Homo sapiens: one gene and its partners. The protein of the gene in region 1 purifies or fractionates together with the protein of each later gene. This does not show direct contact. Each region holds a gene or a part of one and is shown on either strand. Other genes may lie near its edges.

Region 1 (4,267 bases):
TGGGGAAAATTGATTAATTTGAATTTCATTTTATTGTTGTTTCTACCTTGAACCATATTGTGAGTTTTTATATATGCTCAGCAAGTTTTAGCTTATCCACAGTTGCAGGCTCAGATGATGTTCCAATAAATGCTAAAAATTCATGAGAAGAAAAAAATGGGACTTAAAGTTTGCCTTTTAATCAATTCAGAATCTGGGGATCTTTTTGCCTTGCTTAGTTTTAATGCCAAGAGAACGACAACTTTTTAAAATACGTTTCTGTCTCTAAACTTCTCTAAAAATGTTTGGTATTCCTCAGCCTGGTATTCCTCAGCCCTTCATTCCTGAAATTCCTTAAAGGTCTGGGTATGTCCAACCCCATTAAACTGATTCAATTTATAAACTATGAGGCCACCTTCCTTTTCTCCAGTCCCCATTTCCAAAGGTAACCTCATTTTATTCTTCTCTCCCTTTAGATATGAACACAGTAATATTAACCTGTTTTGCTTCCAATTAGTGCTACTCCCTCCCAGAAATACAACTCACGAAGTAACCGAGGAGAAGTGGTTACCTCCTTCGGCTTAGCACAGGGAGTATCTTGGTCTGGGAGAGGAGGAGCTGGAAACATCAGCCTGAAGGTCTTGGGATGTCCAGAGGCACTAACTGGGAGCTACAAATCCATGTTTCAGAAGCTCCCAGACATTCGAGAAGGTGATTGTTTTTCCCTTTGAAATTCTGGTGGATATAAAACCACCTAGAAGGGTGTAGAGTAACAAAGCTTCAGCTAGGCTGGTAGAACAAGTTCCAAGGTTGCCTTTCAATGTATGAGTTGGTAGATGTCCTCATGGAAGCCCTAGTAATGGAGGGACACGGGCAATACTATCAGTGATTGCCCCAAGTCACTTCACTTTGCTAAAACGCACATAACCATTCCCAGCAGCAAAAACTTGAACGATGTAAAGGAATTCAACTTAAAGATATTCATGGTTCCTTCGTTAGAAGCCTTCTTCAGGTTGGCCTTGACTTGCCTAAAACCTCAGTGAGGACTTGAGTAAAGGGCAGACTTGGAGATGGGGTGGGGTTCATGCTGATTCCCTGGAATTGTGCTATGGGGTCTCCTGTGGCCAGATGGAAGGCCAGATTCAGCAACCAAATATCGGAAAATTGGCAAAGGTTTTAGAAGGTTTAAACTGGCCAGATGTCCAGGCACCCTTCCTGCTTCTGTAAAATGACTGACTTTAATATTTTACAATGTGCTGTATTTTCTCTTCTTGGCAAGTGAAATGTCTTAAACATAATACTTTTTTCCACTTCTGGGATTGTAGTTCTGACCTGTAAGATAGAAGAACTTGGCAGCGAACTCAAGGAACATTACAAGATTGAAGCTTTCACTCCTTTGCTAGCCCCAGCACAGGTAAGAGTTGTTCTAATAGTTCTCACTAATTAATATTACGTTTTTAAATCGATGACCAAGAGGCATCCTTCTTGCTTCCTTTTTCACTTCTTGTCTGTGTTCTAGTTTGAACATCTGTCTTGGTTGAATTTGGGAAAATGGGCCCTTCTGAAGAAAGATTTGTAAGTGCTGTCTGGTTTTGTGGCCAGAGAGTGATTTTCTTCCCACTTGGATTAGAGTCTTGCACATAAGCAGAGACTCAAGGCCTTGTTTCCCTTGGTGGTGAGTCAGGTAGCTCCCCGGGGATTTCCCACAAATAGAAGCATTCACGTATCGAGATAAAAGGACAGCAGCGACGGTGGGGTTTTCAGAATCTTGTTCTCTGGACAATGACTCACAGTCTCTCCCCTGGTTTGGTCTCTTGTTATAGACAAACTGCTGCCAATAGTATCTTTATATCATAGTTTAATCTGGCATATATACCAGTGCTTTCTCTCTAGAATGTTTTCTAATCTAAGGGGAAATATATTCTAGAAGTTTCTTTAAAGTACCTTTGTCAATGTTTACATTCAAAGAATGATCAGTTGGGGAAGTGATGCAGAACTGTGTCATAGAAGGAAGTGTTAGAGGACTTGGAAGGAAGTAATTGAGGGAAGGCAGGGAGGCACAATCACTGGGAAAGATGAGACTTCCTCTGTTTTCTCCCAAGAGTGGGAACAGAACAGAGGAAGCCATGGAGACAGAGATTTTAGCTCAATTAATAAAGAACTTCCTGTTAAGAGGTTGTATGGTATGTGGCTAAGGATATGGCTCTAGAGCCAAATTTCTGGTTTCAAACCCAAGCTTCACCCACAGTTTGACCTTGACTAAATTATCTAACCTTTCTGTTGCTTGTTTTCCTCATCTGTAAAATGGATACAGTAATATCCACCCGATGGTTGTTGCAAGGATTAAATGAGTTAATACATATAAAATGCCTAAGAATACATTTTAGAACAGTGCATGGTATTTAGTAAGCTCAAGAAATGTTAGCTATTATTAAGTAGTTATAGCTGCCCAAAGATGCAGTGGGCTGCCCTGGGGTGGTGAGGACAGGGTGGGGTAGGCATCCAGGGGCAAGTTCCCCTACACTAGAGATGCTCACACTTAGGCAGCCTCCTAGGAAGGCTCAAGTGCTGGGTGGATGGGTGGACAAGATGCCCTTTCAGAGTTCTTCCATCCTGAGAGTCAGTGATGACGCGGTAGTCACCTCAGGGTCAAAGCAATGCCCTGCCAAGAAATGTATTTGTTGTTTGCAGTTTGTTTTGCTATTCACCCTATCGACTTCAGATTTTGAGCTCCTGCTCCAAAGACTGTCATTCTTATGCTGTGACCTTCCTTTGGTAGGAGCCTGTCACTCTGCTGGGCCAGATTGGCTGTGATAGCAACGGGAAGCTGAACAACAAGTCAGTGATTCTCGAGGGAGACCGGGAACATTCCTCGGGTGCTCAAATTCCAGTGGATTTATCTGAGCTTAAGGAATATTCTCTGTTTCCTGGACAGGTGAGATTGGAGGAGTTCCACCAGAATGCAGGCGCACTCTTTACCCCTGTAGTGTAGGTGCTGTGCCATGCGCAGCTGCTCCTCAGTTCCTGTCTCTGCTGCCATGGGGTGCAGCTGGAGCACATGCCCCAGAGCAGACACCACTGTTGGGATTCCTGTTTCCCCCATGCTCTGACCCAGGCTCTGGGACCTGACTGCGCAGCCTCAAATCCCAACTCCCCGCTCCATGAGGTGCATGACTGTGCACAAGGTACTTAACCATCTAAACTACAGTTTCTTCACTCACAAAATGGAAATAATAATTCTTACCTCATAGGATTGTTGTGAAAATTAGATCACTTATATAGAGCATAATTATTATTACTAATGCAACGCCCTTAATTCGTTTTCTACAAAAATGCCCTAAGTTTATGATTACAGAATGAGAGTAGTTGGACAATGCTTTTAACTGCCTCAAAATAATGTATTCCAGACCTCATTGATCTCCACTGCTTAGCAATCCTGTTTGTTTTTGTCTTTCAGGTTGTAATTATGGAAGGAATCAACACCACTGGTAGGAAACTTGTTGCCACCAAACTCTACGAGGTACACAGCAGTACCCCCACTTGCCTCTTGGTTTGCTTCAGACAAAGTATGTCTGGAAGCTGTCTGTTCTAGAAACTGGTCCTTTTTAGGAGCCCATTTATTTGTTAGTCAGTTCTCCATCTGTAAGTGGGAACCCACCCCTAGGCCAGGGGTCAGCAAACCCTTTCTATAAAGGGCCAGACAGTAACTCTTTTAGACTTTGTAGCTATATGGTCTCTGTCACAATGACTCAATTCTGCCTTTGTCTACAAAAGCAGCCATAGAGGACTCTTAAACAGATGACTGTGGCTGTGTTCCCATAAAACTTTATTTAAATAGTGGGCTGCAGCCAAATTTGGCCCAGAGGCCGAAAGGTTACCTATCCCTGCTCTAGGCAACAATCCTCCAGAGATTTTCGTAGAATGCCAGGAAAAGTAGCAAGAAACCATTCTCTCCCATCCTTGCCTAGAAGTACACTGATACTTTAGGCACCTGTTTTGCTCCCACTTGTTGCTGGGTATTTTATGACAATTGAGTAGTGACCTCCCATTACCTGGGTTTCTTTGCCCTCTGAGCAGTATAGAAAAATGGCAGGTCCCATCAGATCCAGGGAGCAAGACAGAGGCACATCCTTCCCCTGCCCTCTCGCTCCTCCCCACTGTCCTCCCATCACACACCTGCACCACCCCCAACCTGGTGCCCTCCCCTTTCCTTACCAAGGTGATGCCTGGCGCAAGACCTTACTTGAGCTTTTCCCCTGTTTTTAGGGTGTGCCACTTCCATTTTATC
Region 2 (3,557 bases), on another chromosome or scaffold:
GGAAAATTAGTATGATGCCATTAGCAAAAACATAAATTGCACTTAACTAAAGTTCATCTGGCTGAATTCTTTCCTTCCTTCCTTCCTTCCTTCCTTCCTTCCTTCCTTTCTTCCTCTATCTTTCTTTGGTTTTGAGATCTGTCTATAGTATTGTGCTAGTGCACATATTTTAATTTGGTGCAAGGCATGCTTAACAGAGTAAGTGAAAAGCTATAAAGGTTAGAGCGTGTATTAGTTTCAATGACGAAGGAGTAATAAATCATTTTGTCAGGTTGCACTCTAACATTCAAATTCCATTTTTATTATGGCTAACTAGCCAAGCATTTATAATTCTGAACTCCACAGAATGGGGAAAAAGTGTATTAACTTATAATAGATCATTGAGCTTGTTAAATGTACCTTTCCTAATTCGTACTTTTTCCCTTTTGCTGAGAAAAATGCCTTTCTGAATATATAATTTTTACAGGTCATTGGAAAGGAGTACTGCACAACAGGATTATTATAATGTGCTAAAAGATGGCACTTGTATCTCATTGCCACATAGAGAGCTCATGTGAAAACTCTTTGATCTTTGCTGGCTTTTTAGCTGAAAAGATTTGGAAATCTTTTTGGCACTGGCAAAAACAGAACTGTGGTAACTGTTTATAGTTGGTTGATTTTTAGCAATGGGTAAGAATGTCTTTGTTGAATCCAGTTTATTAATACGTAATGGGCAACATGTTGCCTTAAAGGCAAAAGCATATTTTTCTCATATCAAAAAGCTCCCTAAATTTTTGCCAATATCCAAAGATATTTTAAGATGGTCTTCATTTTCTTTTTCAGTCTGTCCTATGCTGAGAAAAAAAAATTACAACCTCTGAACTTCAGCAGTTTTTTAGGTAAAAGGAATTTTTCATGATGTGATTGATATAACTACTCAGCTGGACATAAGCTTTCAAGGGCTAAGTCCATTTGCCGATTTGTTTGCATTTCCTACTCCAACTAAAATAATTCAAAGACATGAAGTGTCTATTGTGGAAAATGCATGAATAATGCAAAAGTCATTCTCAAGTGACCTATCAGAAAGGCCTACCAGAAATGCAGTTACTGCTTTCTAATAAAATCATGAAAAACTTTTTTAAAAAGTATAACCATCTTGAATTTGTTGAGGCAATTATAAGAGAGTATATAAGGGCAAGTTTCTCCAAAAGCGGTTCTGTTTGTTTTGTTTTTTTTTAATAATTCCCATCAACAGCAATCTGTTTTCTCATTGTAGTAGTATAGGTGTTAACATAAAAGCTCAAACAGCTTGGGAGAAAAAAAAGGATATAGCAAACCTAACTGATAACTTTGCTAGTTTCAAATCATTATGATGGCCATTCATAGATGACTGAAATATTTAACATTTGAAGTAACAGAATTTTGACTTATGTTTTCATGGTTTAAGAGTTTATATTTCAAATTTTTTCACATAGTCTGTTTATAACAGTATATAAAACATGTATTAACTATATAAGTTAATAAAGTCATGAACTGATGGCCATTTTTTGGTCTTATTCATATAGTATAGGCTGTTTTGTGAATTAATCCCCTTCCCATGTGTTTGAATTCCCCACTATGTAAGGCTTAGTGGTGTTAGCATGATCCAAGGGTGGGATTTTCAGCCCTCTGACATCAAAAGGTGAAGCAGAGGACACAAAAACCCTCACTGCATCTTCCCTAGACTGGCCAGAACCACTCCATGGTCAGTGGACTCCCTTAATAGGAAGGAATGCTGGTCAGTTGTCAAAGAGCAAAAAGGGAGGGGTAGTCATGAGGTTGGTTGTAATCAGAGGTGCAACAGGTCTTTCCAAAGGGCTGGTTTCTGTTTAACTCTTAGGAAAGAACACCTAATGGTAGTTAGTGAGGAGGGGGTATAATGAGATGTGCCCAACCTCCCATCCCATCATGGCCGGGAACTCAGTTTTTAAGGTTTCCCTGAAGTCCTCTTGGCCAGGAGAGGGTCTGTTTAGTCAAATGTGGGGGGGGAGCTTAGGATTTTATTTTTATTTCCAAGTTATAATGTTGGACCATCAGAGCATGAATACAGGTTGAGTCTTTAATCTGTAAATACTTAGCAATCACCTTCTTCTCAGTAACTTTCTCTGAAGGTTGCTGATAAGCCAGTGTTCTTGATGTTTGCCCACTTACCCCTCAAGATGAGGAGTGAAGAAATTAGATTGCATTGCCAGGAATTTCCTAGAAGAAAAGGTTTTGAGGATGCATGACCTATGAGGGTGCTGAGGACCCCTTTCCACCAAACATGGACTAACTTCTGGGTTGCTCTTTCACATCTATTGTCTTGTTCGACGTACACAGAAGTGCAGAGCACAGCCGCAGCCCTCACAGCATCATCTATCTAGGTTCTGAATCCTGAATGGTCTGAGGCTCTCCTAGAGCTGAGATTCTCCTTTGCAGTTCCAGTGGAGAAAAGCACTTTCTTTGCCGAGGCAGTGTAACTTCCTTGTTCCCAAGGCTCCAACTGTTGTGGGCACATATGAGTATACATTAACATCCATGCCCAATTTATAATCACTGTTTTCCCCACATGTGTACTCAGACCTCCAAGCTTCTGAAAAATATTTCCTCTCATCTCTCAAAGAATTTTAGTACATTTGCCTGGATGCAGAAACACAAATCATGCTGGCTTTCCTACTCAATCAAAAACTGTAGCTTGAGTGGGGTGGCAAGGGTTGTCCCACAGCAGGTTTACTTGGACTCCAAAATGATGTAGAGTTTAGTGAGGCAGCTCCTTGAGTTTGAACTTAGAGCCCTTTTGGCTACCAGGGCACCTGCAGTCCTCCAAGATAGTAGAGTCTGAACCAGTTAAAGAGCCAGCTACCACAGCTTTGCAGAAACCACTGTTTCTCCTTAACTCTAGGGCTCAGCGGTTGAACTCCTTAGAATAAAACTTTCTGTCTGCGACCCTATCATTTTCTTTTGTATTTTGGCCTTCACTGAATTCCCACCCCATCCATTCCAACAGACTTGGTTATACGTGTCTGAACACCAAATGTGACAGAATTTGTGGCCTTGGATCAGGAGGCTATTTGGCCCTTATCTAAATCGGTGGCTGAGAATGGATTCCAGGGAAGTGTTTTTCTTAGGAGTACCCAAGAAGCTCAGCTCAGGTTGGGCTCCCTGTTCTATTCTGAGAACTACAAATCAAATTCAAAATGGAGCACAGAAAATTCTCATTTCTAGTTGACTTATTTGTATTTTGGTGTCCTGTGCCCTAAATATCTTCTCAAGGAAACCTTGGCTTTAAAAGTGATTGTTTACTTAAACAAATAAAACAACAACATACAAGAAAAGGCAGTAAATCCGAGCGTCCATCAACAAATGAATCAAAAAACAAATGAGATATATATGTACGGTGGCATATTATTCAGCCTTAAAAAGGAAAGAAATTTTGACACATGAGACAATATGAATGAACCTTGAAGACATTAATTATGCTGAGTGAAATAAGCCAGCCACAAAAGAACAGATATTGTATAATTCCTCTTATATTAGGTACCTAAAATAGTCAAATTGAT
Region 3 (3,557 bases), on another chromosome or scaffold:
TGATAAATTACAAATACATTTATACATTTCTAAAAGTCTTCTTTGATCCAACCCTTCCATGTAAGCAAATATCCAAATAATGTCAACCTCAAACTCATATACTGGCAGTTTTATTTCCATTTTTATCTTGTCAATTTTCTTTATTGAGAGAGAATTCACACACCATAAAACAGCTTGTCCAGTTTCCAAAAATATTAATTTTGGAGAGTATTACCATCTTAACAATATTAAGTATCCTCATCCATAACCATGGGATATCATTCTATTTATTTAGGTCTTCCTTAATTTCTTTCAACCTGTTTTGCAGTTTTCAGTGTACAAGACTTGCATTTGTCTTGTTAAATTTATTCCTAAGTATTTTATTTTTGATGCTATCACAAATGCAATAATTGCATTTCAGATCATTCATTTCTACTGTATAGAGAATTGAATTTTGTGTACTGATCTTTTATCTTGCAACCTTTCTGAACTCATTTTTTAGTTAATAGTTTGGTTTCAGTTTTGGGGAGTTAAAAAATGTGGATTCATTCAAATTTTCTGTATACAGATCATGTTATCTGGGAATACAACTAGTTTTATCTCCTCCTTTCCAATCTGGATGCCTTTTATCTTTCCTGCCTAATTGCCCTGGCATCTTGACTATTTTTATACCTCAATTTTTCTAATAATTGTTTAATTTTTAAAAAACAGATACTGCAATCACGACATTACAAACACTGACTCATCTATTTTAACATATATAAAAGCAAAAACAGTCAAGGCTCTAACTACAATTTGAACTCCTTAACACTTAAGCTAGATACACATACACAAACACACACACACACCTCATTAAAAGACTTACTAAAAATCAAAATTGTAGTTACATGAAAAGATTATACTCAAAAATCAGAAGCACATGAACTACAAATCTTCTAGTTGCATGCCTTTTCTTAAAGAGATCTGCAGATAAGGAGTTTTTTCTGTTTTTTGGTTTCTTGTTATAGGACACCACATTGCAGCCAGAAAAAAAAAAAATCCATAGGGAATAAATCTGGCATTTTAATGCAATAAATCGCTTTTTTTTTTTTTTTTTTTTGAGACAGAGTCTTGCTCTGTCACCCATGCTGGAGTGCAGTGGTGTGATCTCAGCTCACTGCAACCTCCTCCTCCTGGGTTCAAGCAATACTGGTGCCTCAGCCTCCCGAGTAGCTGGGATTACAGGTGCGCACCACCATGCCTGGCTAATTATTATGTATTTTTAGTAGAAACGGGGTTTCACCATGTTGACCAGGCTGGTCTCAAACTCCTGGCCTCAAGCAATCCACCCGCCTCAGCCTCTCAAAGTGCTGGGATTACAATCAATTTTCTTTTAAAACATGCATATGGGTAGTGAATGTCCTCACAAAAATCTAACACTCTGATCTGCTCTAGTGCTCATAATTCATAACTCATTATTTAAGACTATCTAGTTTTAAATTGCTCATATAAAAGCGTATTTATTGAATAGCTAAAACACAGAAAATCTCATTTCAACAGCATTTGAAAATTATTAAATAATACTATAAGAAAAAGATTTCAGGCATTCCTTTGAAGTTCATAGATGGCTTGCTTATAATTATTCATGAAAGCCATTTTAACAGACTCATTTTTTAATCATATAATTTATAATAAAAGGTTATAAAGCCACATATTAAAAAAATTATTTCATTTTCCAATTGCAGCTGTAAGACCGAACTTAATTTTTGTCCATAAAAATACCAGCTAGTAGCCACAATTTATTTCACTCAGAGGAATACATATAAATTAAGTTAAAAACAATACCCAATCATTACCTCTTTAACAAGGTGATTGACAGATTGCTGCCCACCTCCAGAGCCCCACACACTATCTTTACGCTTTCCACCTTTAGACATACTCAGAAGCACGGTAGCCTTATCCAGAGCAGCTCTACAGAGAAAGAAAAAAATTTAAGTTTGATAGCTGGACATACCTAAAGTTTACTAAATTAGGGATAAAGCTGACAAAATCCTATATGCCCTAAATCTTTCACATAACATAAAAGCAAAATAAAATTCAAAACACTTTTTCAAAACAAAAAGGAGCAAAAAGAAGTTGATCCTCATGTTAATATTCTCATGCTCTATTTCATTTCTCATTCAAGAAAAATCAAAACACATTACAAAATAACTGATCTACACTGAGAAGAAACACTTCACATATAATTAACTTTCACCTAGATCCATGCCTTCCTACCCAGGGACACCATTCCACTATGATGTGAAGTAGCCCTAGAAAATTAAGTTAATATATAGACCTGAGGAAAACTAAGACATGGCTGAGTCCAAGTCTCCAAGAAGTTAAGAAAAATCAAATAGCATAACTCCCAAATATCACATTTAGTTATACCAAATATCATATTAATTATACTAAATCACAAGAGTGAAAAAGATACTTTCTGACTAAGATTTCTACAGTAGATAAATACAAAATAAAACTATAAATCAGGCCTCTCTTCTTAAGGTTATCCATCTTATTAGAATATTAAACTATTACACAATGCTAGAACCTGAAAACAGAACTTAAAGATCTGTCCAATGGTTTTGTTTCATAAATAAAGAAACTGAGGCCCAAAGAAGAGTGGCTTGACATGAAGGTAATTAATGATTTAGCTAAACTCCAGAACTTTTCCATTATAGTACTGTCCTCTTCCTGGTATATCATGCCAATAGTCTCTCCATTTTAACAGTGGAGAATATAGAGAAGTGACAAACAGATGTACAGAGTGTCTGATTAACACAAGTGTCATTTCAATAGGATCCTGTAGAATTTTCCCCTATTTTGAAATTCTAAGTAGGAAAAGTGATTTACTTACCTAGCCTGCACACAATCTACAGTTCCTTTGTAACTATCAATATAGGTATTACATAAAATTCCATCTCCAACAGCTCTAGCAATAAACTGGCCCACCAACTGTAAAAAGGAAAAAAAAAAGAGCTATAAAAAAAGTTAAATAACTTTTATAGGTCACAATTTCTAAATACATAAATGATGAAGATTAGCTGAAGTACACAGTCAGTACCTAAAAGATGCTGGAATTTTTTTTTAAAAAAAAACCTATGTAGTACCTGTTATGCCTGGCATACACTCCCACATCTTAACCTTCAAGTTAAGTGCCAGAGTGGGGGCCACATCTGTTTTGCTCACTAATGAATCCCTAACACCTTGCACACTGCCTGAATACATAGCATATGATCAAATTTTTTTTTTTTTTTTTTTTTTTTGAGACAGAGTCTCGCTCTGTCGCCCAGGCTGGAGTGCAGTGGCACGATCTCAGTTCACTGCAACCTCCACCTCCCAGGTTCAAGTGATTCTTCTCCCTCAGCCTCCCGAGTGGCTGGGACTACAGGCGCACACCTGGCTAATTTTTGTATTTCTAGTAGAGACGGGGTGTCACCATCTTGGCCAGGCTGGTCTCGAACTCCTGACCTCGTGATCCGCCTGCCTCGGCCTCCCAAAGTGCTGGGGTTAAACGAATGATTTAAGGTCAAGTGACGTCCTCTCTTCTTAAAACAAAA
Region 4 (3,557 bases), on another chromosome or scaffold:
TAAAATTCAATTCTCTCAGTAAATTTTCATAATTTTTATTTATGTAAATTATTTCTGTAAAGTTTTTGTCTTTTATCATGGGATTTATTTCCCACCACTAACAGTCCAATTACATTATATTCTGTTCTTGGTTTAAAGGAGTAACTTCTGGGGGTCCCGTATGTTTTGATGTGATTATGTGGCCATAAGACTGATTCCAGTAGCCACATGGAAATTCATTTCATTATTTTTTAGTTTATTTTCTGAGTATCAGTGAGAAGTATACGTTTTACAAAACTCACATATTTATCATTTTAAATCAATACATTCCCATGTTGTCATAGTTGTTTAATATTTTCAGTACCATTATTGGCATTATCCTGCAGGTTTCATGATAATAAAGTGAGATTATTGCCAACTATGACAACCCATTGAGTTATTTAATATTTTCTAGTTTTTTTTAAATCCATGAAATGCTCAATCATAATTCATCATTTAAAGCTAAAAATTGTGCCATTACTCCAAATAAGAGAGAGAGATTGTTTCCATTTTTTCCTAAGATCAACCATCAGTGTCCAAAATGTAATACCACCTATGTCCTTTGTGAGGTCTGTGAAACACACTTCATCTCCTTTTTGTGGGGTGGTTTTAAATAGAAGTTTAGTTCTGATTTTAAGTGATAAAATTTCATCTTTTCATAGGATATGAAGAGATCACATTTTATGAATATTTAAAGACTCAAAAATTAACCCCCAACCTCCAATATATTGTCATGCATTCAATTGCAATGACATCAGAGACAGCCAGCAGCACCATAGATGGTCTCAAAGCTACCAAAAACTTTCTTCACTGTCTTGGGCGGTATGGCAACACTCCATTTTTGTTTCCTTTATATGGCCAAGGAGAACTCCCCCAGTGTTTCTGCAGGTAAGTTTGCCATTGATTTTCTTGTCCCTTCTAAAAGTGATACTTGAATAACAGATGAAAATTAGGCAGGCAAAAATGAGATTTATTCAAGATTTAGTATATGCAAATATATACTTTATTCTATTTATTTTTTATAATCTATTTACCTACCTATCTACCCACCTAAGTGATATATTCAGTGTGGCCTCTTTTTGAGCTTGATAAAAATACTATAAATTCCTTTTTCCACTCAATAGCATGATGGAAAGTATTGTCATTGCATATAATTTTAGTTAATTTTTTATTACTATATAGTATGTTATTGTGAATACACCACAATCTATTTTTTCATTTTTCTGTTGATGAACACAGGATGTTTCCAGTTTTTTGAGGTTAACACCCTTGTGTATGTTTCAAGTTGTGTATGTTCAAGAATTTCTCTCGGAAACATATCTAGGGGTGGAATTCCCCAGTCCTGAGATACATGAATGTTAACACTTTACAACATCGTGTTCAGTTATTTCTCTAGAGGGCTGTACCAATTATAACCTTTTAGCCGTACATAAGAATACCCAAAGCTTTACATGTTTGCCAACATTTAAAATTTTTTTGTCAACCTAACTCACATAAATTATCATTGCATTGGATTTTTATTTTTCATTTCCCTAATTACCTATGAAGTTGAACCTTTTCTCATATGTTTACTGGCCATTCATGTTTTATCTTCAGGGAATACTTGTTTGTGTCTTTTTTTGTTTGTTTTACACATTTTTAAAAATTTTTATTTTTTGTGGGTACATAGGAGGCATATGTGTTTGTGGGGTACATGAGATAGTTTAATACAGGCATGCAAAGTGTAATCCATCATGGTAAATGGAGTATCCATCCCTTCACACATTTATCCTTTGTGTTGAAAACAATCCAATTATACTCTTCATTTTAACATGTACAATTAAATCATTATTGACTGTAGTCACTCTGTTGTAATATCAAACACTAGATTTTATTCATTCTTTCTAACTACGTTTTGTACCTATTAACCATTCCTACTTATCCGCTGCCCCCTCAAAACCCGCCCCAGGCTCTGATAACCATCCTTTTACTCTCTGTCTCCATATGTTTAATTGTTTTAATTTTTAGCTCCCGCAAGTAAGTGAGGATATGCATTGTTTGTCTTTCTGTGGCTGGCTTATTTCACTTAATATAATGACCTCCAGTTTCATCCATGTTGTCATGTTGTTGCAAATGTCAGGGTCTCATTCTTTTGTTTTTTTTTTTTTGGGAGATGGAGTCTTGCTCTGTCACCCAGGGTGGAGTGCAGTGGTGTGATCTCGGCTCACTGCAACCTCTGCCACCCAGGTTCAAGTGATTCTCCTGCCTCAGTCTCCTGAGTAGCTGGGATTACAGGCACGTGCCACCACACCTGGCTAATTTTTGTATTTTTAGTAGTGATGGAGTTTCAGCATCTTGGCCAGGCTAGTCTTGAACTCCCGACTTTGTGATCCACCCATCTCAGCCTCCCAAAGTGCTGGTATTACAGGCGTGAGCCACCATGCCCAGCCAGGATCTCGTTCTTTTTATGGCTGAGTATTACTCCAAGGTGTAACTGTACTACATTTTCTTTATCCATTTATCTGTTGCTGGGCACTTAGGTTGCTTCCAAATCTTGGTTATTGTGAACAGTGCTGCGACAAATGTGGTATGTAGATATCCCTTTGATACACTGATTTCCTTTCTTTTGGGTATATACCTAGCAGTGGGATTGCTAGATCGTATGGTAGCTCTATTTTTACTTTTCTGAGGAACTTCCAAACTGTTCTCCACAGTGGTTGTACTAATTAACACTCCCACCCACAGTGTTCAAGGGTTCCCTTTTCTCCGTATCTTTGCCAGCATTTGCTAGTGTCTTTCTTTTGAATAAAAGTTATTTTAACTGGGGTAATAAAATATCTCATTGTAATTTTGATGTGCATTTCTCTGATGATCAGTGATGTTGAACACCTTTTTATATGTCTCCTTGTCATTTGTATGTCTTCTTTTGAAAAATGTCTATTCAGATCTTTTGCCCAATTTTTAGTCATATCATTAGATTTTTTTCCTGTAGAGTTGTTTGAGCTACTTATATATTCTGGTCATTAATTCCTTGTTAGACGGGTAGTTTGCAGATATTCTCTTTCATTCTGTGGGTTGTCTTTTCACTTTGTTTATGGTTTCTTTTGCTGTGCAGAAACTTTTTAACTTCATGTGTTCCCGTTTGTCCATTTTTGCTTTAGTCGCCTGTGCTTGTGGGGCATTGCTTAAGAAATCTTTGCCCAGACCAGTGTCTTGGAGGTTTTCTCCGATGTTTTCTTGTAGTAGTTTCAAAGTTTGAGGCATTAGATTTAATTCTTTAATCCATTTTGATTTGCTTTTTATATACTGCAAAAGATAGGGGTCTAGTTTCATTTTTCTGCATACAGATATCCAGTTACCCCAACACCCTTTATGGAAAAGACTGTCTTTTACCCAGTGTATATTCTTGGCACCTTTGTCAAAAATGAGTTCACTGTAGGTGTGTGGATTTGTTTCTGGGTTCTCTATTCTGTTTTTTTGGTTTATGTGTCTGTTTTTATGCCAGTACCATGCTGTTTTGGTGACTATAGTTCTGTAGTATAATTTGAAATAAGGTAATG

What was found. Proteins that work in one complex are often made in the same cells at the same time.
Region 2: the proteins of POLA2 (region 1) and NCKAP1 fractionate together in Homo sapiens (co-fractionation; one large-scale study listed by BioGRID). This does not show direct contact.
Region 3: the proteins of POLA2 (region 1) and PDCD4 fractionate together in Homo sapiens (co-fractionation; one large-scale study listed by BioGRID). This does not show direct contact.
Region 4: the proteins of POLA2 (region 1) and CHM purify together in Homo sapiens (co-immunoprecipitation; one large-scale study listed by IntAct). This does not show direct contact.

The regions. Positions count from the first base shown.
Region 1 is NC_000011.10:65,278,234-65,282,500, forward strand, and holds part of POLA2 (DNA polymerase alpha subunit B), read left to right. Parts: intron 1-496; coding exon 497-690; intron 691-1,304; coding exon 1,305-1,393; intron 1,394-2,758; coding exon 2,759-2,914; intron 2,915-3,436; coding exon 3,437-3,499; intron 3,500-4,245; coding exon 4,246-4,267. UniProt on the Homo sapiens protein: Accessory subunit of the DNA polymerase alpha complex (also known as the alpha DNA polymerase-primase complex) which plays an essential role in the initiation of DNA synthesis.
Region 2 is NC_000002.12:182,909,401-182,912,957, reverse strand, and holds part of NCKAP1 (nck-associated protein 1), read left to right. Parts: 3' UTR 1-3,557. UniProt on the Homo sapiens protein: Part of the WAVE complex that regulates lamellipodia formation. The WAVE complex regulates actin filament reorganization via its interaction with the Arp2/3 complex. Actin remodeling activity is regulated by RAC1.
Region 3 is NC_000010.11:110,888,928-110,892,484, reverse strand, and holds part of PDCD4 (programmed cell death protein 4), read right to left. Parts: intron 2,953-3,557; coding exon 2,855-2,952; intron 1,930-2,854; coding exon 1,815-1,929; intron 1-1,814. UniProt on the Homo sapiens protein: Inhibits translation initiation and cap-dependent translation. May excert its function by hindering the interaction between EIF4A1 and EIF4G. Inhibits the helicase activity of EIF4A. Modulates the activation of JUN kinase.
Region 4 is NC_000023.11:85,953,502-85,957,058, reverse strand, and holds part of CHM (rab proteins geranylgeranyltransferase component A 1), read left to right. Parts: intron 1-680; coding exon 681-906; intron 907-3,557. UniProt on the Homo sapiens protein: Substrate-binding subunit of the Rab geranylgeranyltransferase (GGTase) complex.